Regions from separate parts of the Homo sapiens genome. Here regions 2, 3 and 4 are each linked to region 1. The links come from fine-mapping of genetic effects on gene expression. A gene starts in region 1. Each other region holds a variant in brackets. All regions are shown on one strand. Distances are from middle to middle.

Region 1 (5,000 bases):
TCAAGTTTTTCCTAGAAAGGGGAAATACCACATTTAGGAGTATAAATTTGGCATACTATCAAACAAGTATACCAATTCAAAGAATATTCTTTTAATCGTTGAACAATATCATTTCTAGCATTTATATTGTTTATATTATTATTCTAAGAAAAAGACATGTATGGCTAAGTTCATATTACAAGGAACATCAGTTTAATAGCCAAAGGTAACTATACAGCTAAATCATAATCCCTTAACATTTCTACACAATTTTTAGGGCCAATCAGGAACTGAATTTATTATCGTGAATGGAGAACATGAGACACCTAGAACTTCTAAAGGCCTGAGAATACCTTGTCTAGTAAAACTTTTGAGGCAATGGAGCTACAGAAAAGCTGAAAGAAGATAAATTTTCTGCTCCTATCACACATTTAATCAGGAATCAGATTTATTTAAAAATCTGTGTCTCTAATGGAGCCTCAAAATTTTATTTTAAATACAATTTTGCTACTTTGCAGCTTCTCTGGTGAGAAAGAAAAAAAGATGACATCCAACAAAAGACTTATCACTTAAAACTTAAAAATATTTTAAAATGGAACTCCTGGTTTTTCGTGTACACATCTTCTTTAACGTTTTACTGAAACACATCACAAATTGCTAGAAATTGTTATCAAGCAAAATATACCAGTTTTTTGTACTCTATTTTTTTCCAATCAACTGCATATTTCACAATCAGCAAAACCATGAAATTACAATGAAATATAAAATTCACGTGAGCTTTGTTTTTTAATAGCCCCATAAAGACAGATAATAAAAGCACAATTATAGCTGAAAGTCTGCCGAAAAAAAACTAATTCTGATGTTTGCCCTGTAGATTTTCTTTCCCTTCAGTTCAAAAGGTATAGAGAATTGCACCATCTTTATACTTCGAATTGCAATATAAATCCATTTTTAAAAACACAGGCATATTAGGGCCAAAGTTGATTAATTTAAGGTTTTGTCTTTCTGCCTACTTATAGCTTGCCTTCAGTCACTTCACTTTTCTGACTAAAATGTATCCATTCACAATTATCAGAGTTGTTGAACCTCCCACCCTCTCCCACCAGAGTCAAAATTACACAGGTTTGCTCTGGCTGAGGTAGAATGAAATAAAACTACAAAGACAGACCGAGAACTTCCTGCATTCTAGGTATTAGTCTAAAAAAGTCCACTTCTCACATCACACAAATCTCACAAATTAGCCACTGGATGTTTGATCAGTTCTGCATTCAACAAATGAAGTAGGAGAGTGACAATGTAGTAACTTGCCCAGGCCACATAGCTACTTAATTTGCAGGAAAATGGACGTTATATTAATATTTACTAGCAACTTGCTTAGTAGGCTTTTTAGAATTAAATAGATGAATAAACGCAAAGCACTTCGACCAGTGGCTCGCGTAAACAAATCAACATTTGACATTGAAAATGAGAAAACCTACAAAGTTAGTGACTTGCCCAAGGTCACACTAGTGAGGAGTGGAGGGTCGGGAACCTGAGCAGTGCTCACACTCTCCGCTCTGCCTCCCTGTACCAAGTTGCAAGCAGGGTTCAGAGCTAGTCCCAGAAAGCCCTATACATGTCCAAGATCGCATGGGGCACTCCAACGTTTGAAAACTTGGCTAAATCAGATTCCAGGGGGCAGTCACCTTGAATTCTGCGGAGCTGTAGAGCCTGTCGGTAGCCCAGGACTCTGGAGCAGCCCCAAGGGTCGGCGCGGACCGGGGCCCCGGGGCCACCAGAAGCGCGGCCCCAGTGGCTCGTGGCGCGAGAGCGCGTGCGCACCCCCAGCCCCGACCCACGAGGGTCCACATGACCCGGGCGGCGGAGGCGTCAGGAGAGGGTACCCACACGCAACAGCAGCATAGCCCGTTTTTTTTCGAAGGTACCCCCCGTAGGATCCGGTGGACAGGACTCAAACAGATCCTGTGAAGCGAAGACAATGAACCCCGGGGAGCTCTGCCCAAGTACCAGATCCGGAAGCAACCCGAAGCGGCGGCGCAGCTTGCCGACGTCTGCACGCCGCACGCTGTCGTGACATCAGCGCGTCTTGGCGCCGGGTAGTGGAGTGGTCACGTGAGTGGAGGCTTTCGATTGACTCCCTAAAACGCAGGGTGTAGACAGAGTACATATTAGCTTATATTGTCTGCTGAGTGCTGTGCCAATTCCTTTGCATTGTCTCTTTCTTACTACTGCCCTGTGGTGTGTGTACTGTCAGTTCCCCCAAACTACCTCTGGAAATCCGGACCGAGTGACTTGCCCAGGAGCTCACAGGTGGGGAGCTGTGGAGCCTGGAGTGCCGCCCAGGCAGTCTGATTCCCGAACCAGGAGCCGAGGTCTTAGTCCAGGGACTTAAAGATGCTATTATTAGCACAACGTTGAGACTTAGCCTTCTACCTAATGGCAAAATAATAATGGCACTTTTAAAATCTGGAGGTCGAAATGTATTCCCCATGTTGTCAGTGACAGAGCTAATCTTGAAGTGCATCTGAAAGGAAACGGGCCATAACATTGATTGCAATACTGAATCCAGGAAGGTTTTGGCAAGAAGTAAAGGTGGGAAAAAGTTCCATGCTGGACCCCCAATGTTTCCATCGTCATCAAGTTACCACTTCATGGAATGAGCTCTGACGAAGTAAGAATGGGGGATAAAACAGGTGATAGGAGGATTGCATCCAGTGTTTGTCTCCCACTATTTCTCTTGCGCTTTTCTGGAATATCCAGAATTTGGTGCGAAGGAGGGAGATGACAGCTGTGTTCAGTTCATCATTGTGACTGAAGACAGAATCATTCGTATTGTTTCCAGAGCCTTTGAAAGTTTCTTCATTTGGAGGATTTCTTAGGATCAAGAATTCTGTACCAGACTCAGTTCTTTCTTGGATTTTTTTTTCCCCCCTGAGATGGTGTCTCGCTCTGTCGCCCAGGCTGGAGTACAGTAGCGCTATCTCGGCTCACTGCAACCTCCGCCTCCTGGGCTCAAGCGATTCTCCTGCCTCAGTCTCCTGAGTAGCTGGGATTACAGGCGCGCGCCAGCAATCATGGCTAATTTTTGTATTTTTAGTAGAGACGGGGTTTCACCATGTTGGTCACGCTGATCTCGAACTCCTGACCTCGTGATCTGCCCACCTCGGCCTCCCAAAGTGTTGCGATTACAGGCGTGAGCCACCGCGCCTGGCCCTTTCTTGGAACTTTTATGAATTAAAACAGTACTTGATAGACGACTAATTCTGTCACACTTGTAAGAGAATGAATTTAACAACTATCTTGAAGTAAACACAATAATTTATATTCAATGTTGCCCAGACTTCCATAATTTGCACAATTACCCTCATTAATTTTCACCATATCCTGTCAAAGATAAAGGCAGACACCAGTTAAAGTGGTGAAGACAGATTTTTATTATAGTGATATACTAATGCAATCGGGAATAAGATCCAGAATGAACTAAACTACAATTTGTCCAGAGGCGACTGTATTTTAAAAGGAGAATGCGGGAGTAGGGAAAGAGAACAACTGGGCTTGATCAAAGTCAGGGAAACGGAAATTTACAAAAAACAATGGCGGAAGAATGGTCCATTTGAAATCCATCTGGGTTGTAAACTGTTGCTTATGGAAATAAGGCTCCTACCCTTCCCGCAGACACTAGGAAATGAGTGCTACTTTCACATGTTGGCTGGAACAAATAAATTATTTTGTCAGTCTTGAGCTTTCTCAGACAGAAATTTAAGGGGGCTTCATCTTAGAGATGCAGCCTTGAGCTGTTATAAACTATATGAGTTTGTTCAAGTCTTTTAATGTGTGGGCAAACCGGTAGGGGAAGGATGTGGATGAAATCATTTGTGCTGAGGGTCTGTAGTTTTTATAGGCAAGTTTGAGGCTTTGCTGATAAGAGGGCTTAGAAGAGTCAGGCTAGAGTTTGGTCAAGAATCTTTGTCAATCCTCATACCGATATTATGTACTTTATATTTTTCTTTAACTTACCTTTATATGTAAATGAATTCTTTTTAAAAGAAAACGTAGATACCATTAATGGAGAAAGCATGATGAGCTGTCATAAGAGTAACAGTAAATATAACTGTAGTGAATAAAAAATGTGATTCAATTGTAGGTTTGGTCTGTCTGGATTACAAAAGGGAGATTAGCAGATATTAGAAAAGAATTTAAAAATATTAGCCTCAAACTGAGATTTTTCTCTTTGACCTAGCAAGAAGCATTTAAATAGGGTTGAAAGAAAAACTTTATCTGAATAACACAGTATCCTTGATACCATGTCTGTATCTATCTTGGTGCCTCCACAGGAATTTGTCCCACACTTTAGAAAACTGCAGTATCTTATAAGGCTGACATTATGTTTCCCAGCCTACAAATGGAAAAACATATTTGTTAGAAAAATACTGAGCTCCACTGTGTCAGGTTATATACTAGCTGTGGAAACTCAAACAAATTAAGCAAAATGTCTAAAATTACATGATAGATAAATTACATGATAGATAAATGCAAAAAAAAATTTGAATCCAAATTTTTGGAAACTAAAGCTCATCTCTTGCAATATCTTTGCACAAGTTTCTTTATTATTCAACTTGAGAAGAAGCAGGAGGTATAGTGACTGAACTTCAAAGAGGAGGTATCTTTCATGTGCTTCGAAGGATAGGCAGTTTTTTGTTTTTATCCAAGGAAATAAATGGAACTTAAGCAGAGGAATAATCAACAGCATAACACATTTTCTCAGTTCCCAGTACTATTCTACATACTTTGTATCAATTCATTCGATCTTCACAGAGCCCTCTATTGCTGGCACTCTTATTATCTCTGTTTCATAGATTTCCAAGAAAAATGTGGCCAACGTTTTTTAAATAACTGTCTAGAGTCACAGTTAGTGATGAACTAGGGCTGTGAGTCCACACAGTCCAGCTGTAGAGCCTGCACCCTTAACCACTCCAGTAAACTCGGCTCAGCTGAGCAAGGATACAAATGCGGAAAAACAC
Region 2 (6,369 bases), 210 kb after region 1:
ACATTCATTCCTTTGTAAATTTTTTTGGGCAAATGGTTATGTGGTTGTTTCATTTTACTATCCTAGTCATTGCATCTATTTTTATGGATAGATTCAGAGAGACTCAAAAGCAATGTTACTGCCATAACCATCAACACAGAATTTCTGGTTTTTAAATTTGTTTGATTAAATTTTTAGTTTGGCTATACCTTCTAGCTACTAAGTGACCCTTTTTATTTATTCACTTTTTGTTTATTTAAATACGTCATAATGTTAGGAGTATTTTCCAGAAAGATACAGCTTTCTAATTCACATTTCTATAAGTGTTCATGGATATTTGTTGGTCAAAAATGTTTTTATATTTTAGTTTTTGTGGGTACATAGGAAGTGTATATATGAGGTACACGTAATGTTTGTACACCGGCATGTAATGCATAACAATCATATCATGTAAAATGGGGTATCCATCCCCTCAAGGGAAAAAAGCCTTTGTGCTACAAGCAATTCAATTATACCCTTTTAGTTATTTTAAAATGGACAATTAGATTATTTTTGACTACACTCACCCTGTTGTGCTATCAAATACTAGGTCTTAGTCATTCTTTCTAATTTTTTTTGTACCCATTAACCATTCTCACCTCCCTCGACTTTCCCACTATCCTTCCCAGCCTCTGGTAACCATTCTTCTGCACTCTTATCTCCATAGGTTAAATTGTCTTGATTTTTAGATCCTACAGATAAATGAGAATATGAGATGTTTGTCTTTCTGTGCCTGGCTTATTTTATTTAACATAATGACCTCCAGTTCCATTCATGTTGTTACAAATGGCTGAATCTCATTGTTTTTTATGGTCAAATAGTATCCCATTGTGTATAAGTACCATATTTTCTTTATCCATTCATCTGTTGATGGATGCTTGGGTTGCTTCTAAATCTTGGCTATTGTGAACAGTGCTGCAAAAGACATGGGAGTACAGATGCCTCTTTGATATACTGATTTTCTTTCTTTGGGGTATATACCCAGCAGTGGAATTGCTGGAGCATATGACAGCTCTATTTTTAGTTTTTCACAGGACCTCCAAACTGTTCTCCATAGTGGTTGTACTAATTTACATTTCCACCAACAGTAAATGAGGATTCCCTTTTCTCCACATCTTCTCTACCGTTTGTTATTGCCTGTCTTTTGGATATAAGCCATTTGAACTAGGGTGAGATGATATCTCACTGTCATTTTGTTTTGCATTTCTCTGATGATCTGTGATGTTGAGCACCTTTTCATCTGTCTGCCATCTGTGCCTTCTATTGAGAAATGTCTATTCAAACCTTTTGCTTATTTTAAAATTGGATTGTTATTTTTTTCCTACAGAGTTTGTTTTAGCTTCTTATATATTCTAGTTATTAATACTTTGTCAGATTAGCAGTTTGCAAATATTCTCTCTGATAAAGTGGGTTGTCTCTTCACTTTGTTTATTGTTTCCTTTGCTTTGCAGAAGCTTTTCAACTTTATGTGATCTCATTTGTCCATTTTTGCTTTGGTTGTCTGTGCTTGTGGGGTATTACTGAAGAAATCTTTGCCCACACCAATATCCTGGAGAGTTTCACCAGTGTTTTCTTGGAGTAGTTTCATAGTTTGAGGTCTTAGATTTAAGTCTTTAATCCATTTGTATTTTATTTTTGTATAATGCTAGAGATAGGGATTAAGTTTCATTCTTCTGCATATGGATATCCAATTTTCCCACAATATTTATTGAAAAGACTATCTTTTCCCCAGTATATGTTCTTGGCACCTTTGTTCTTGAGTTCACTGTAGGTTCATGGATTTGTTTCTTGGTTCTCTATTTTGTTCCATTGGTCTTGATGTCTGTTTTTATGACAGTGTCATGCCGTTTTGATTACTATAGCTCTGTAGTATAATTTGAAGTCAGGTAATGTGATTCCTCCATTTGTGTTCTTTTGGCTTAGGATAGATTTGGCTATTCTGGGTCTTCTGGGGTTCCATATATATTTTAGCATATTTTTTCTATTTCTGTGAAAAATATCATTGGTATTTTGATAGAGATTACATTGAATCTGTATATTGCTTTGGGTAGTATAGACATTTTAACAGTATTAATTCTTCCAATCCATGAACATAGAGTGTATTTCCATTTATTTGGTGTCTTCTTCAATTTCTTTCATCCATGTTGTATAGTTTTCATTATAGAAAGCTTTCACTTCCTTGGTTAAATTAATTTCCAGGTATTTAATTTTATTTGTGGCTATTGTAAATGGTATTACTTTTTTATATCTTTTTTCAGATTGATCCCTGTTGGCATATAGAAACACAACTAAATTTTGTACATTGATTTTGCATCCTGCCACTTTACTGAATTTATCAGTTCTAAAAATTTTTTGGTGGCATCTTTAGGCTTTTTTCAAATATAAGATCATATCATCAAGGATAATATACAAGCAAACAGGGATTATTTGACTTCTTCCTTTCCAATTTGGATGCCTTTTATTTCTTTCTGTTGTCTGATTGTTCTAGCTAGGGCTTCCAGTACTATGTTGGATAACAGTGGTGAAAGTGAGCATCCTTGTTATGTTTCAGATCTTAAAGTAAATGCTTTCATTTTTTCCCATTCAGTATGATACTAGCTATGTGTATGTAATTTATGACTTTTATTATGTTGAGGTAAATTCCTTTATACACAGTTTTTTGAGGGTTTTTAACACGAAGAAATGTTGAATTTTATCAAATGCTTTTTCAGCATCAATTGAAATGATCTTATGGTTTTTATCCTTCATTCTGTTGATATGATGTATC[A/G]CACTGATTGATTTGCATATGTTGAACCATCCTTGCATCCCATGGATAAATCTCACTTGGTCATGATAAATGACCTTTTTAATGTATCACTGGATTTGGCTTGCCAGTACTTTGCTGAAGACTTATGAATCAAAAGTCATCAGAAATATTGGCCAGTAGTTTTCTTTTTTTGATGTGTCTGTGTCTGGTTTTGTTATTAGGGTAATAGTGGCTTTGTAGAATAAGTTTGAATGTATCTGCTTCTCTTCTATTTTTCAAAATAGTTTGAGTAGGATTGGTATTAGTTCTTCTTTAAATGGTATAATTCAGCAGTGAAGCCTTTGGGTCCCAGGGTTTTGTTTACTGGGAGAATTTTTATTATGGCTTTGATCTTGTTACTTGTTATTGGTCTGTTCAGGTTTTGGATTTATTCATGGTTCAATCTAGGTAGGTTATATGTGTCTAGAAATTTGTTCATTTCTTCTAGATTTTCCAATTTGGGCATACAGTTGCTTATAGTTGCCACTAATTGTCCAGGGATATTTGTAACTAGAGATGTATCAGTTATAAATTCACCTAGCTCTGTTTCACGTATATGTGGTCAAGATACTGATTTGGTTGGTGGTAAAATCCGTTGATAGATTACTAATTTACAGTAAAATACAGTTTATTTTGAAGTTATATTCTAATTCAACAAATCATATAATTGTTTAAAGAATTACTTATGGCCTTAAAGGGAAAGGAAACCCTTAAGGTAACATTTAAGGGAGAAAAAGTAACTCAGTGTTTTAGTAGGAAAAAGCAAGAATTCCAGCTATATCAAGCAGCACTGATTATTCATTCATAAATGTTAGAAGACCAAGGGACAAAGACAGAAACACATAACATTTTCACCTCATGAGGACAAAGAGCTTAAAAGTCCTAACTAAAGAAGCAGCATATCTGTTGCTTAACAGATATGTCAATGGTTAAGAAAATGGGAAGAACTTTAAAAGGTTTTGATATATTTCTGGGATATCAATTCACACACATATAAACACACACACACACACACACACATACACACACACACACACACACTCATGAGGAAATGCAGCCCTTCCTTATTTTAAAAAAAGCACTAATTTTCTAGGCAAAGGGGGCTAATATCTAGACCAAAATTAATGAATTAATTAAAATCTCTCTCCTCCATGTTTAGGTAGGAAGAATCTATGTTAGATACACTCAATAAAAAGCAGGACCATGATGACAGACAGAAAGGGCACTAAAGCAACAACAAAAAAAGATACAGCATCAACTTCAAACGAAATGGCTTCTGTGATGGAGAGGTACCTATTATGCAGGGTAGAAACAGTATGATTCTAAGACCATTGAAGGGAGAAGACAAGGGGAAAATATGAGACTGTAATATTGTAAAACTTTAATAAAGAAAGGATGAATCTAAAATAATTAAGGTGCATCTCAGCCCACAATGTGCTCCACCACCACAGGAGGTCATGCGACAGATGAAGAGAGGAGGCTAAGAAGGCGTGTTAAGGCACTTGTAGACAGACTCTGACCTTTACAGCTTGGCATTTCAATAGCTACTATTAAAGTGCCTTTTAAAATGCTCTTTTAATTATGTTCATATACAAAGCCATTCTAAATAACACATATTATTCTATAATGTGTTTCTAAAATGTAGTTTAAATGTACATTTTGAAGTGCTGCACTGCAACTGGAGAATACTGGAAAAAATATTTTCTGTAATAGATAATAGAGCTTCCAGGTCAGTTTTTGTGGTAAATTAGGAAGGGTTTAGATATTTTTAAGGTTTTCAAAAACTTCTTGAAATGTCTTCAGACTAAGATAAAAATAAATTATGTCAAACATCCCTTTTAGTAAGGGGAGGATTTGCACACACAAAAAAATAATAACTGGGAGATTCCCTGAAGTCTTGTCCAAATTGCATTGCATTGCCTAAGATGCAATCAGAAGAGAAGAGACATTATATCCCACACAAAAATCAGGCTCACTGAAAATAGAAAATTGAATTATAAGTGACAAGAGGAAGATCATTAAACATGTAAATTGTCACTTTAAGAATAAGGTGAAATTCAATCTAAAAGTAATGAAAGTACATCAAAGAAGCAAAGACTGTATAGATAAGGAATAGAAACTCGGACTTCAAATGGGAGGGTAAAAAGATTATTCGTTGATGTTGATTTGTTTTGGTTTTTGAAAAGCATATTCTATTTTAAACATTAGTTTTAAATGTGATAAGAAATTACCTAATAGTAATTCTTATTATTACTTAAAATAATAAATAAATATATTAGAAAACACTGATAATTATGCCCACAGGATAAATATATAAACCTTTGTTAGATTCAGCAAGAATAAGGAAAGAATGGAGCTGCATTCATTGGTAGACTACCAACTAGCCTGATGCAGCTACAAAGCACTTTAAATGTGGCTAGTCCAAGTTGAGATGTGCTGTAAAGGTAAAATATCCACAGCATTTCACAGGCTTAGTACAGAAAAAATATAAGCTATTTTAATAATGTTTTATATTGATCATATGTTGAAATGATAATGTTTTGGATATATTGAGCTAAATAAAATGTATTATTAATTTCACCTGTGTGTAGTAAGGAATTTAATCTTGCCCAAAGAGAAGTTTGGCCTTTGTGTTCAGCTCTTGGGAGGTTATCTTATTCGGCTCTTAGGAGGTTATCTAAGCCCTTGTAATGTCTTGCCTGTTAAGAGTATTTTCGTTTACCTGAAAGTCCTGGGCTATAGGAGATGTATTAGTCCAGTTTTGTATGGCTATTAAGATACTACCTGAGACCAGGTAATTTGTAAATAAAAGAGATGTAATTGACTCACAGTTCTGCATGGCTGGGGAAGCCTTGGGAAACTTAAAATCATGGCAGAAGGCAAATGGGAAGCAAGGCATGTCTTACACGGCAGCAGGAGAGAGAGAGAGCCAGAGGAAAATGCCACTTTTAAACCATCGGATCTTGTAAGAACTCCCTATCATAAGAACAGCATGAGGGAACCATCCCCATGATCCAATCACCTCCCACCATGTCCCTCCCTTCACACATGGGGATTACAATTCGAGATCAGATTTGAGTGGGGACACAGAGCCAAACTATGTCACAGACAGTATAATAATATCATTCATAAGGGGGCTCTGAGTCATATGGGATCAGCTGAAACTTGAGAGGGTCTGGAGACTGAGATCAGTCACTTGGGCAGCCAACCATGTGTATATGACTAAGTTCCAATGAAACTCTGGATGCTGAGTGTCAGAGGAGCTTCCCTATTTGCCAATACTCTGTGTATATTCTCATACCCTGATGCTGGGAATGTTGATACTGTCCCTGACTCTACTAGGAGAGGGCAACTGGAAGCTCCAGGGATGAAATGTTCCTGGACTGTGCCCCATGTATCTGATCCCTTGGCTGACTGCACCATTTGCTAGCTGTGTGAACTTTGTCAAGTCATCTAATTTACTGTGCATCAGTTTAATTCTGAGTGGAGATGATAAGAATACTTAGAGGATTCCTGTGAGGATTAAATGGCTTATTATATCCAAAGTGCTTACAACAGTGCCTGGC
Region 3 (6,369 bases), 26 kb before region 1:
GTGTCTTACAATTTATAGCATCTCATACTCAGAAATAAAGTATATAATCTTAAATTTTTAATTCAATGCAAAGAAAACCAACTCATATTTCATGTATATGTGTGAATATGGCAAATATCTTGAAGGTGTTATACAAATAACTGACATTTGGCAAGCACTGAAAATAGTCTATTTTTAAACAAAATGCTGATCATGCTTTGTATATAGTTTTGTATTTGTACTTATGTTTCATGAGCATTTTCCTGTTTTACTAAATATTTGGAAGCATTTTAATGGATAGTTAAGTACATAAATCATAATTTATTTAAACATTTCCTTATTAACACTTAGATTATTTCTAGTCATTTATATTTTTACCATTTAAATTACTAATTTACCAAGCCACAAATATATCAAACTGAAAAACTGAAAAACTGAAAAATTTCTGATTTGTGAATAAAAGAGCATTTGATGGAGTTTTAACTCTATTTTCCCATGTAACCCTTCAGATTTCATCCCAAATAATAGATTCCTTGACTACAAGGAATCCTCACTATCCACAAATTTTAATTCCAGTTTTAAGGAGATTCATTTAACATGGCCATTTTCTAGTCCTCATTAAGTCCCAGATAAATCCCTGTACTAATCTAATTTTGTCACAATTAGGTTTTTATCAGATTTTTATATCTTGGTGAATATTTAATAAGATATTTAATAACAGCCAGTATCTCTATGACCAGGCACTATTCTAAATGCATTTTACTTATTGATTTACTTATCACAAAAATGTTATGAAATGGGTATTCATAGTCCCATTTTTAAATTAATAGGCTTAACAGACAGAGACGTTAAGCTACTTACCCAAAGTCATACAGCACATATTTGGGCAGAGCTGGGTAATAGAAATCAAAATCAGGCTGATCTCTGGAGTATGCAGGCTTTTGTCTATTCTATTATACTGCCTCCCAGAATAAACTCTAGGTATGATACCATCTACATCAAAACCATATTTCCATCTGCTTTTTTCCCATATGATAATCACTGCTTCCAAAAAAGGTATATCGACATATGTTAGATAATTTAAAATAGAAGGGTGGTAGATGTTTATATGTATTTAGTTCTTTTAGTTCATCTAATTGTAAGCTCTTCTGAAAAATTTTGAAACAGACCATTCGTGAGAGGATAGCTGCACTGCATCAAGAGGACACAGTATTTTCCACTTTGGAGCTGTCTGTATTTCTGAAGAGGTTTCAGGGTATCAGCCTGTTAGGATACCTCCTTCAATATGAAGACAGAATTTAGACATTCTGGGCTACATATGGGCCTCATTTTACAGCATTTTAGTAAAGGGTAGAGAAATTGAATATTCTTAAATAAACACATTTCAAATGTAGTTTGTATACTTTTCATACCTCCATTGAGTTACTAGTATATCAAAATACTGGAGGATGTAAATTCCTATAATTGTCATCCATAACTCTTCAAATTCCATTCACATCACTACCCTTTCTTCTGTCATCACTAAAAAGTGCTGACCAGAATCTTAAAGGGTTTTATTTAGTGCCTAGATAAGATCTAGGTTAACTAGATCCAAAACAATAAAAATTGTCAGTAAATGCAAGTTTATTTCAATATATACCTATATAACGGTATATACCTTTTGAAAGATACAAGTTAATCACAAGACAACAAGTTTAGTACGTGGGGATTTGTTTTATTCATTCTCGCTTTTCATTTTTGCTTTTTAAATAGAACAGCTTTGATTTTTAGTATATGACATCATCATCATGAATTTTTTTCTCTTACTTTGTATTTAGGCTCCACCTCAGTAGTTTGACAAAGGTAGAATGAGTTCATTTTGAGTCAAAACCATAAAAGTTACTTTGTATAGACATTGGTTAGAATCTGTGACATTTAACCTTTCTTCTGGTAACGTTTCAGGAAGTCTGGTGCATTTTTATCAGAAGAATTATTTCTGTTTGACTTAAGTAGCAATTATTTATTTATATAAAATTCGTATGTAGAAAGTTGTCAGTTTTTACCTAAAGTCACAGTAAATATTTGACTTAATATCTAAAAAGCAATTAATAGAATTTTCAAAATAATTATTTCTAGTTTGGAAGCAGTCCTATTTGATGTATAAAAGATATATCCAATGTAAAGAAAAAAATTTTATAAAGGAGTTGAATTTTTAATATTTACTGATATTTTAATTTGCATGTATTTTAAAGCTCTGTGTATTCTTTCCGTAATCAAAGTTGTTAGCAAATGACAGATGAATACTATTTAAGTAGAAAAACGATCCTCTACAAAGTGATACTCTGGAAAATGTTGCATCTTCTAAATCATACAGCTGATATTACCCTTATCTTTGTTGTCCCCTCTCCTACTGGACATGAAGTTTCAGGTGACCTTCAAGTAGGCTGTTGAGCAGTTGCAGGACTAGTGAATGGAATGCTTCCCCCTTCCCTCCTTTAGAGTCCCATTCTTATGGTTAGAATTTCTCCTACTACACAAACACTTCCCAGTACTCTTTGCTTGTCCCTTAAAAGTGGGTCTTTCTCAAAGCTGGGATTTTAGAGTCCTTTTTGCAGCCTTTCTGACAAGGAACATCTGTTTACTAACAAGCAACCTATCTCTCCAATCCAGTAATCCCATTTCCTGCAAAACCGCATTAAGTGCCTTTCCCCACCCTCCCATGTTCTTAATACCTGGAAAACTTAACTCATTTCTTTACCCTCCAAAATATAAAATCTCTGGTTCATTAACTGGGTCAGTCTTTTTAGAACTTTTTTCTCCCCAAAGAAATATAGTACTGAGGCATTAAAACAGGAGTAACTGGAAGATCAGCTATTTCCCAAGCAGCTTCCATAGCTAAGAGCAGTCTGCAAGTATATGTACCAATTACAAAATGAAAGTTATAATCTACCGGATTTAAAATCGTAATTTCTATTCTGAATTAAATGATTTAATACAGGTTGTTTTCTGTCTTGTTTTAGTAACCCTCCCTCAGTGTAGAATTTGTAATCAACCTTTGTCATAAATACACATGCCAAACTATTGGAAAGTAATTTACCAGA[C/T]GAATGGATAGGGTAATGTATTAAGAGTGAGACAGCAGTTCTGAGCCCCTGGCTGGAGTCTAGTAGAGGAACTGCCAGAGGATCAATATCAACATAGACTTTTAGATATAATTAAAACCTATTATCTAAGTCAGTATTCAAATTTGTCATGCTTAATCTCTTTGAAGACAAGAAATGCTCTTCTGGTTACTCCCAAAGTACCTGTACACATTCTAGATCTGCACTGTTACATAATTATAAATTGGTATTTGCTAGGTAGATAAAACTTAAGACATTCTGAAACATTTCTATTTGTACTTTTTCAATAAACTTGACTATATCAAGATGGGAACTAAACAGGCTTACTGTGTCTTATAAAAAATACTTTGTTGTCTAAAGTAAATGAGATAGTTCAAAATTAATAAAAACAACTAGAACTGTGCTTTTTTTCTTTAAGGTCTAATGCATGTGCACAATAAACTTGTGGATCCACTATTCAGTATGAAAGATGGAAACTGAAGGAGACTGGAGCAAAATTCAGCTTGAATGAACAGAGCACTTTTTACTAAGTAGTAGATGAATTTTCAGCTATGCAATATGACAAAACATGGGGAATTTTGAAGATTGTCATTTTTTCATTCGAGTCTCTATGTTAAACATTCCATATTTTGAATATTTATATCTTGTACTTGGGTTTAAGAGAAGTAGCTGGCTCTCAAGATTGACTGGCTATTTATTATAAAGTACTGAAGTCACATAGCCACCTATAAAACAGCATAGAAATGTCTGCCTGTTTAAAAAGTCATTTTAAAGGTAGAGTGTCCACATCAGGCACCATTTGTGATATGACTCCAGTGGCGTATATTTCATTTTTTAATGACAAGACACTCCAAACCTTTCAGATAACAAACTATCATTGCAGACCTTCACTTTTGGAATGCAATCTTTATATTTTCTGTGCATCACACACATGCTTTTCTGCACGTGGTTGCCTTAGTCATCTTCCTACAGCACCATCTAGACATCAAAAATTGTGCTATATATCATTGGTAAAGGAAATTTGAAGAGATGACAGTGCCTAAAAGTACAGTTTACATCCTTTTGGAAAGTATGTGTAAGTGCATGTTTTTTGTGCACCTTCTTCTATAGCACTTTTTTACAAATATCTTATTTTTATTTAACGACTTGGGTTCATGTCCCTAATATAAGTATCTTGACAATTATGAGCTTTATACCTAGCAAGCCACTTCAGGAAATTCTTTTGGAGAATATTTTCTGATTATTGTTAAACTTAATATACAATTAGCTTTATTCCTTATAAAATGTCTAAAAGAATAATACGAAGTATATATAAAAGGAATTACTGTAAACTACATTGCCATAGCAATTTACATAAAAGTATATTGTTTTTTATCTTTAACTCAAATAAAGCGTGTAATAAATAAGTTATCTAAATTTCCAGAAGTGAACCTGAAGAATACATGCATTCGACTCCCAACAATTATAGTACATGTGAACCTGCATTCATTTTGGGTTTGTTACCATCATGCATTAGGAGAGTTAGGTTAAAAGATGTCTTTGCCTCTGTGGGGAGCAAAAAAATGCTCCTTTTGCTTATTTTGCATTTCATAAGCCCACCTGGTAGAAGAAGCCTTACTTATCTGCTTGTCTATGTGATTAAAATGTAGTTTCTTAAAATATTAAAATAGCAAATAAATTAATGAAATAAAATTGGTAATAGGGTTTTATGGTTAAAAGTGGGGGATGGGGTAAATTATGCTGCTTTAATTCCAGATGATGTTTTAATAGCCTTATAAATGTTTTTTAAATAACTAGTGAGTAACACTCCACTTACACTTCCAGTAATAAGAATCATTTACTACAAACTATGCTGACTACCTTAGAAAGTCATACAGCATCACAGTGAAAAAGCTAAAGGTACCTGTTGTGCTACATGATTCACCAGTAATTTCTCTGCTTTAAAGGTCTAAAAATTCTCCTTTCCATTTTCCTTCCCTTGATGTTAGGGGCTTAGTTGAGGTTCATGTACTCAAGCTCCTCCACAAGCTGAGGAGCGAAAACTCTGGCCATTTTCATTCCTGCTTTCATTCCCTAAATTGAGGAGCTAAGCTGCTGTTAGGCAAAGAACCTAGCTTTTTCAAGAAACCAACCACTGAATCCCAGCTCTGTCAGGGAAATAAAAAAGTCTCAGCTACTTCCCCAAAATTTTTACATAGATTGAATAAGGGAAGCATACATAGCTCAGCACAGTGGTTGTCACATATTAAAGTCAATAAACGGTGCTATTTTAATATTGATAACAGTGTTTAAACATATTTCAGTGTTTGCTAAAATCTTAGTAATATTAAGTCCTCTGAGGAATGCACTTATAAAGCACACAACTCCAAATCACTAAAGTCATCTGACTGGGAAAGCGGGAAGGGGAAAGAAATTAAGCTTACAGAAAATGCTTTTTTGTACTACAACTAAAACTATAACTAAAACTACTTTTTTGTACTACTATAACTAAAGAGTCATAGGTTAAAAAAAGGTAAAATTAGTCTGAATAAAAAAGACTAAGACTGGTAAATTATTAAATAGCAAGCACATAGTACATATTACGTTCCAAGAACCAATTTGTAACTTATCCTTTGGCAGTGATAGAACAGAACACTTTTACAATTTTTTAATTTCAAATACTGTCATTTTCAAAATACTACTGTCATGGTCTTTCAGATTTCATCTGTTTTTATCAGAACCTGGAAGAGGGAGGGAAGATACATAAGATGATAATGTATGTATCTAGGACTATATCACAGGCTACTTCTACACATGATTTTAAGTAAATCTCCACTTAATTTATAATTAAAATGATTTCACAATAACTGTAAGCTCAAAATATCTGAGACAGCTCTCAAGTCAGTTTAGAAAGTTTATTTTCCCAGGGTTAAGGTGTGCCCATGACACAGCCTCAGGAGGTCCTCACCACATGTGCCCAAGGTGGTTGGGGCACAGCTTGGTTTTACACATTTTAGAGAGACATGAGACATCAATCAGTATGTGTAAGGTGTACATTGGTCTTGAAAGGCAGGACAACTTGAAGAGGGGCGGGGGCTTCAAGCATAGGCAGGTAAGAGAGAAAGGGTTGCATTTTTTTGAGTTTCTGATTAGCCTTTCACTGAATATACAATTTACATGTGAGAGGAGAGTAGAGGAATAGTCAGTTATACCTTAATCTGGCTTAGTGAAACATGAAACAGAGAAAGCAATCATTTATGCATTTGTTTCATGTGAAGACTTTGAGTTCTTTGTCCATAAGGAATTCCCTTGT
Region 4 (6,369 bases), 100 kb before region 1:
TACTCTTTGTGTGGTTTTCTTTCTGAACACTGTTGGAATAAAATTCTCCATGACTTTCTCATATTTCCCTATGTCTTGTAAGCAGTGTTACTAGCAGATATTTTTCTGGACTATCTTTTGAAGGATGTTTGGATAGCAAGGACCCATGGAAGATGGAGATATTATCTACCTCTGAGGCAGAGTGCAGGTCTGTTTTCTGTGCAATATAATAAAAATAATGTCTCCTTTCAGAGCAAAGATTGGTCAAGTTTGCTTTCAGCCATCTTATAATACATTGGGGTTTCCTAAGCATGAGGTTTCTCAGCTGTGATACTAACACAGTGGGCACAGCATCCACCTTGACCCATCTATACATTGCTCCTGTGGGGCTTAGTGTGGGTAAGAGCAAGGGGAAAAATGAAACTTGAAATTCATGCTACCTGCTGTGCCAAGGGTAATACAATCCTTTGTCTTTGAACAAAAATAAAATTCCATGTCTGCTGGTGACATCCGTGAAACAGTGGCAAGCTAACTTGTTAATTTACAGGTAGAATAAAAATCTCAGATCCTTCATAGTTCTTGATAAACTTCTAAATTTAAAATTAATACTTTTGCACACATGACCTCATCTGCTTTGAGAGAGTGATCTGTATTTGCAATACCTCTTAATATTGCCAGGTTGTCACTATAAATATATGGATTCAGAAGTTTCCTAATTTTAGTATAATAGATTCCCTAAAATGTGACGTTCAAAGAACATGTTTTTTTTTTAACTAATATTATTTTCCAGAAAGAGACTTGGACTTCAGAGGAATCATCTATTCACTTTCAGAGTCTTGTGGACTTTTATATCTTCAGCATTCAGAGATAGAATTAGCAAAAAAGAGGGCTAGTTTGGCCATTCTTATCTGTGTCAACTACAGAGGAACTGTCACCTAGCTCATGTCACTGAAAATTTTTCTTTCTGATTCCTGTTCAGTTCCCTGGAAAGGTATGTATGGTTTGTTTTAAAATGTACATTTCTTCTGTCAAGGCATATATCCACTGCTAAAATATAAAATATCTTTTTAACTGTATTTAACTTTTATTCCCCATATGCCTTGGCAGAATTAGCTAAACCTGCAGATATGAATATTAAGATTGGGTATGAATCATGTAGGTGTCCTATTAGGAGCTTTCACAAATCCTTGAACTGATTCACGTTCAGCCATAAGCATCTCACCTATACTCCTGCTATAGCAGCCTAATTTATCTCTGTATATTAGTCAGGTTCTTCAGAGAAATAGACCACATAGGATACCTATAGATATAGAGGAATATATTCATTTATTAGGAATTGGGTTGCACAATTATGGAGGCTGAGATGTCCCACTATCTGCCATCTGCAAGCTGGTAGGCCATGAAAGCCAGTGGTATAGTTTCAGACCAAGCCTGAAGACCTGAGAACCAGGGATCTGATGGTGTAAGTTATGGTTCGAATCTAAGGCCCAAGAATGAGGAAAGCCAATGTTTGTAGACAGGAGAAGATGGATGACCCTGTTCAAGTAGAGAGAGCAAATTTGTCTTTTCTCTATTTTTTAATTTTGTTTGGACTTTCAATGGATTGGATTATGCCCATCTACATTGGTGAGGGCCACTTTCTTAATCTACTTATTCAAATGCTAATATCTTCCAAAAATTCCTTCATATTAACACCAAGAAATAATGTTTTACCAGCTGTCTGGGCATTCTTTAGCCCTGTCAACTTAACATATAAAATTAACCGCCACATCTTGATTTCACTATTGCCTTCAAACAATCTTCTACAGATAGCCACCAAAGTAATTTCAAACATAAATTGTACCATAAAATATTCTGTAACTAAAATGATTGTTTTGGATATATATTCTCTAACTCTTAAATGGTCCTTAATCAATAAATCTGCACCATACATTAAATCCATTCAGTTAGTTTGGCATACATTTGGAGCATCTACAAGAAAGGAATATTGCTCAAGGTTAAAGATTCTATAAATATTTCACTGAGTTTTTATTTATGGCTGAGGTGAGCATTTGTTTACACCTGCTTTCAAAACTTTCCAAGGTAAAATTATTGCACGTCTGCTCTCTGATTTAAAATTTGTGAGTTTCAATTGCACATTCATTTAGATACTGGGTCAAGCCTCAGATTACATTTTAACAATAACACTAATATTTCCCACAGGTAGCCTCAGCCCAACTCCATGCAGAAAAAGAGTGTTTCTATAAGATGTGTCTTTATCAAGTTTCTCGCTTTTAAATCTTTTTTTACTCCTTTCAAATATCAAACACTAGTTTTACATTTAATCAACAACTCAGAATGCCTGTACTCCAAGTACTTGTCAGAGTATAACCACAAAATCAATACTGATCAATACTTCTCACAAACTATGTTGAATGAAACTATTTATAGATGATTATCTGAATAGGTAAATTCTTATCTGAAGAACAGATAAACTCATTCATCTACTATGAAATATCTCATTGGGTTAAGTATGATTGTCAAAGAACTCTGAAACTTTTGGCTTGACCAAAAACTTACTGTGAAAGAAATTCAATTTGACATTAGGCTATCATTATTTTTTGAGAATTTTTTAAAATAATAAATTGCATTTCAGTAACAGGCATAGCTTAATATTTTGTGTTGACTATGTGCCCAGCACCATTCTAAGAATCATATGCAGCCGGGAGCGGTGGCTCACACCTGTAATTCCAGCACTTTGAGAGGCCAAGGCAGGTGGATCACGAGGTCAGGAGATCAAGACCTTCCCGGCCAACATGGGTGAAATCTCATCTCTACTAAAAATACAAAACTCAGCTTGGCATAGTGGCACATGCCTAGAGTCCCAGCTACTCAGGAGGCTGAGGCAGGAGAATCACTTGAACCCGGGAGGCAGAGGCTGCAGTGAGCCGAGATCGCACCCACTACACCACTCCAGCCTGGCAACAGAGCGAGACTCCATCTCAACAACAACAACAACAACAACAAAAAGAATCGTGCATCAGATTTCATTTACTATTCACAAAAAAAAAAAAAAAAACTTGAGTTATACCCTACTGTTTTCAATATTTTAACAATGAGGAAACTAAACCAACAAAGAATTTTCTCAAGCCCATTCATCTTATAAATGGTGGTAGGAAAATTTGAACCCAATTTAAGATGCCATTCCCTTAATCATTACAGAAACCACTACTGTAGTTAATTTCAGGATGTAACTAAGAAGCGTTTTATTGCATTTATATAGTGCCTCTCCATGAGGACTCATGGAAGGAATAGTTTCTTCATATCAGTAGAAAGAAAAAAAAAGTTATTCTTCTTTGAAGCCAAAATTTCTCCTTAATTTTCTAGAAGTTATAAATTATTTGACTAAAAATTTATTCATTTTTGGATTGCTACTCAAAAGTTTGGACCCACAGTGGTTCATATTGGAGCAATTGATCAATTTTATAAACATACATTTTACATATTAGACTCATCAAATTTCCCTCCTGTTGATATTAAATGTAAATATTTATCAGATATAAATATAAATCAGACACAGCTAATTGGTGGTAGTCAGAAAATCTAAGTTTCTGGTCTCCAAATATTCTTTCTATTGTGCTATCCCCAAATATTTTCTGATGAAGAAAGATAAGGCAAATACAAAAAAAAAA[TA/A]ATAATAAGATGAAACCAGCCTACAAACAGCCGAGTAAACACTAGAGACCACAACATTGGTTTATTGCATGGTTAACTCTGAAAAACTAAAATTCACTAACTGCAACTTTACAGACTGTGTGTGTTTGTGTGTGTGTGTGTGCGTGTACATATCTATAAGGGAAGGAAGGAAAGAAAGGAGGGATGGGGGAACAGAGAGGGGAAGGAATTTATTGTCACCTGTTAAGTAAGAAAAATGATAAATCTTTTCATCTCATTTTGTAGTTAATTTAAACTGGACTTCACTAAAGAAGTCAAAACAAGGCTGGGTATGGTGGCTTACACCTGTAACCCCAACATTTTGGGAGGCCAAGGTGGGAGGGTTGCTTGAGCCCAGGAGTTCAAGACCAGCCTGAGCAACATGGCAAGACCCCTCTCCAACAATTAGAAACTTAGCCAGGTGTGGTGGCATGTGCCTATAGTCCCAGCTACTAGCAGGGGGGTGGGGGTAGGGGCACTGAGGTGGGAAGATCACTTAAGCCCAGGAGGTTAAGGCTGCAGTGGGCGGTGTTCATGCCAATGCACTCCAGCCTGGATGACAGAGCAAGACCCTATCTCAGGGGAAAAAAAAGTTACATAATTATAATATTATACATGCCTAGTTCTTCTGCTAAGAGAATTTCTCTGTTATATACCTACATGACCCTGGTTTCCTCATATAAATCCATACTTCCAGTCACTGGAACTGGACCAAGAGTGAGTACCTGATATCAGGGTAGCCAATCCACCTGTTTGCACATGAGTCATGGCCAGGAAAAAATGAATACATTTACGAATTAGATTTTTTTCTCTGTCAACAAATTGAAGAGGGGATACTGAAAGATTATGTTGGTTAGCAGTGGAGCTATAATTGAATTGTATCATGCAGTTGTGTTAGGCCATAGCAAGCTATAAGTAGACACAGAGTGAGGAGGTTTGTTATTAAGTAAGGCATGAGAGTTTATTTTTTATAGCATGGTCAGGGAAGCTCTTTTTGTGATGGCATTTAAATGAAGATATGATAAGAGTGAGGAGGAGAGGTATAGTGGGTTGACAGTGCCTCCTCCCCCAAAAAAAGTTATGTCCAAGTCCTACCCTGCTACCTAGGAATATGACTTTATTTAGAAATAAGGTCTTTGTAGACATAATTAAGTTAAAATTCTCAAGATGAGATTATCCTGGATTAGGGTGGGCTCTCTACCCTATGACTGATATTCTTATAAGAGAATAGAGAAGGAGATGGGGAGACACAGAGACACAAAAGAAGGTGATATGAAGATGGAGGCAGAGATTAGAGTGACACATCTACAAGCCAAGGCTTGCTGGAAGACACCAGAAACTAGGAGAGATGCTTGGAATGGGTCTCCAAAAAGAGCCACACTGCCAACACTTGACTTTGGACTTCTGACCTCTGAAACTGTGACAAAATAAATTTCTGCTGTTCTCAGTCACCTATTTTGTGGTACTTTATTATAGCATCCCTAGAAAACAAATGCAGTGGGTAAGCCATATACATTTCTGAGGGAAGAACCTGCTTAGCAGGTTGGCTCTGAGTAGGAGAGAAATGGATGGTAGGAGATGTGGCCAGAGATTATGCATGTGAATTTGATATGTCTGTTATAACGCCAAGTCCCTGTAGCCAGGGAATGTTTTTGTTTTTCTGATTTATTTTTATCATGGTAAGTAGGAAGCTCCATAGAGTTCAAGTGGAGTTGATTTTTAAATTTTTGACAAAATATGGAAGTTACTTGTCAGCTTTGTGTATAGGCCCCCATCACCTCAAATGGGCCACATACAGGCAGCTGAGGAAAGCAGTGACACAGAGGAGGCACAGAGAAAGAGGCAGCAAGTCCAGAGAGAGAGATGGTAGAGATGAAAAATGACAAATTAGGAAGAAGCCAGTCCAGATTCTATCAAGGGTTCACATTTTGCTCAGTCAGCCTCAAGTTCTCTGAAATAACTGGTATAACAAAGTAATAGAAAATTGTAATATCTTTCTGGAAAATTCTGATTTACCAGATATGTGAAAATACATTGGTCTATTAACAACTCACTATGAATAAGTTTGTCAGATCAATTTTCCAAGAGCAAGCAACTGATAGAATTAATGGATAGTTAATAGAGGTTTAACCAAAAGCAAGGTTCGTCTCTGAGAAAAGTGAGATGCTAGAGTGAGATTCCATAGCAGATCACCTTCAAGACAGAAAAATGCACAAGAGCATCTATCCAGGAGGCCTCAAGAGTAGATAAGGAAAGATGAAAGAATTTAAGCTTTAAACATCAGGAAAGAATTGGAACAATGAGCTCCACTGATCAGTTCGTTTGTCCGTCTCTTTCATGTGTCTCTCTATAGATCTCCCTGTTTTATGACCTCTCCACAGACAAGCTTCATTTCCTTCACTGTCCATGCAATAAAACAACCAACCAATAATGCATGGGACTCCTGTATTACAATCTTGGAACCAAGGAAAAAATGACTTCCATTTTCACCTGTATTTCCAGGGAATGGCCTCAGTTACTCAAATGGTCTCATCTCTGGCCCTATCAACCATGGAAATGAATAAAATTACATAACAATAATAGTTCAATTCTCACTGCAACTATATGAATGAATGGGGAGATGATTTCTGAAGAAATTTTTAACCAATAACACAATAGGTAGGTATTAGATAATATAATATAAATAGCAAATATAATTAT

What was found. PIP is the estimated chance that this variant, and not a neighbour inherited with it, causes the effect.
Region 2: its variant is the best candidate, but not a certain one, in a credible set for the expression of GUF1 in whole blood (TOPMed, PIP 0.86).
Region 3: its variant is the best candidate, but not a certain one, in a credible set for the expression of GUF1 in whole blood (TOPMed, PIP 0.76).
Region 4: its variant is the best candidate, but not a certain one, in a credible set for the expression of GUF1 in adrenal gland (GTEx, PIP 0.77).

The regions. Positions count from the first base shown.
Region 1 is chr4:44,675,452-44,680,451 of GRCh38, reverse strand. GUF1 (GTP binding elongation factor GUF1) reads right to left here and starts at 2,032. Exons shown (of 17, transcript NM_021927.3): 1 at 1,665-2,032; 2 at 1-11. The coding sequence starts at 1,829. RefSeq lists a silencer at 1,694-1,853 and an enhancer at 1,925-2,813.
Region 2 is chr4:44,462,153-44,468,521 of GRCh38, reverse strand. No RefSeq gene overlaps it. Among named protein-coding and RNA genes, the nearest start is that of KCTD8, 17 kb to the right of the region's middle. The variant A/G (reference allele first, on the strand shown) is at 2,786.
Region 3 is chr4:44,700,269-44,706,637 of GRCh38, reverse strand. It overlaps GUF1 (GTP binding elongation factor GUF1), which reads right to left. Exons shown (of 17, transcript NM_021927.3): 17 at 5,710-6,369. GNPDA2 (glucosamine-6-phosphate deaminase 2) reads left to right here. Exons shown (of 7, transcript NM_138335.3): 7 at 3,496-4,843. The coding sequence ends at 3,557. Among named protein-coding and RNA genes, the nearest start is that of GNPDA2, 23 kb to the left of the region's middle. The variant C/T (reference allele first, on the strand shown) is at 3,060.
Region 4 is chr4:44,778,537-44,784,905 of GRCh38, reverse strand. No RefSeq gene overlaps it. Among named protein-coding and RNA genes, the nearest start is that of GNPDA2, 55 kb to the right of the region's middle. The variant TA/A (reference allele first, on the strand shown) is at 3,651.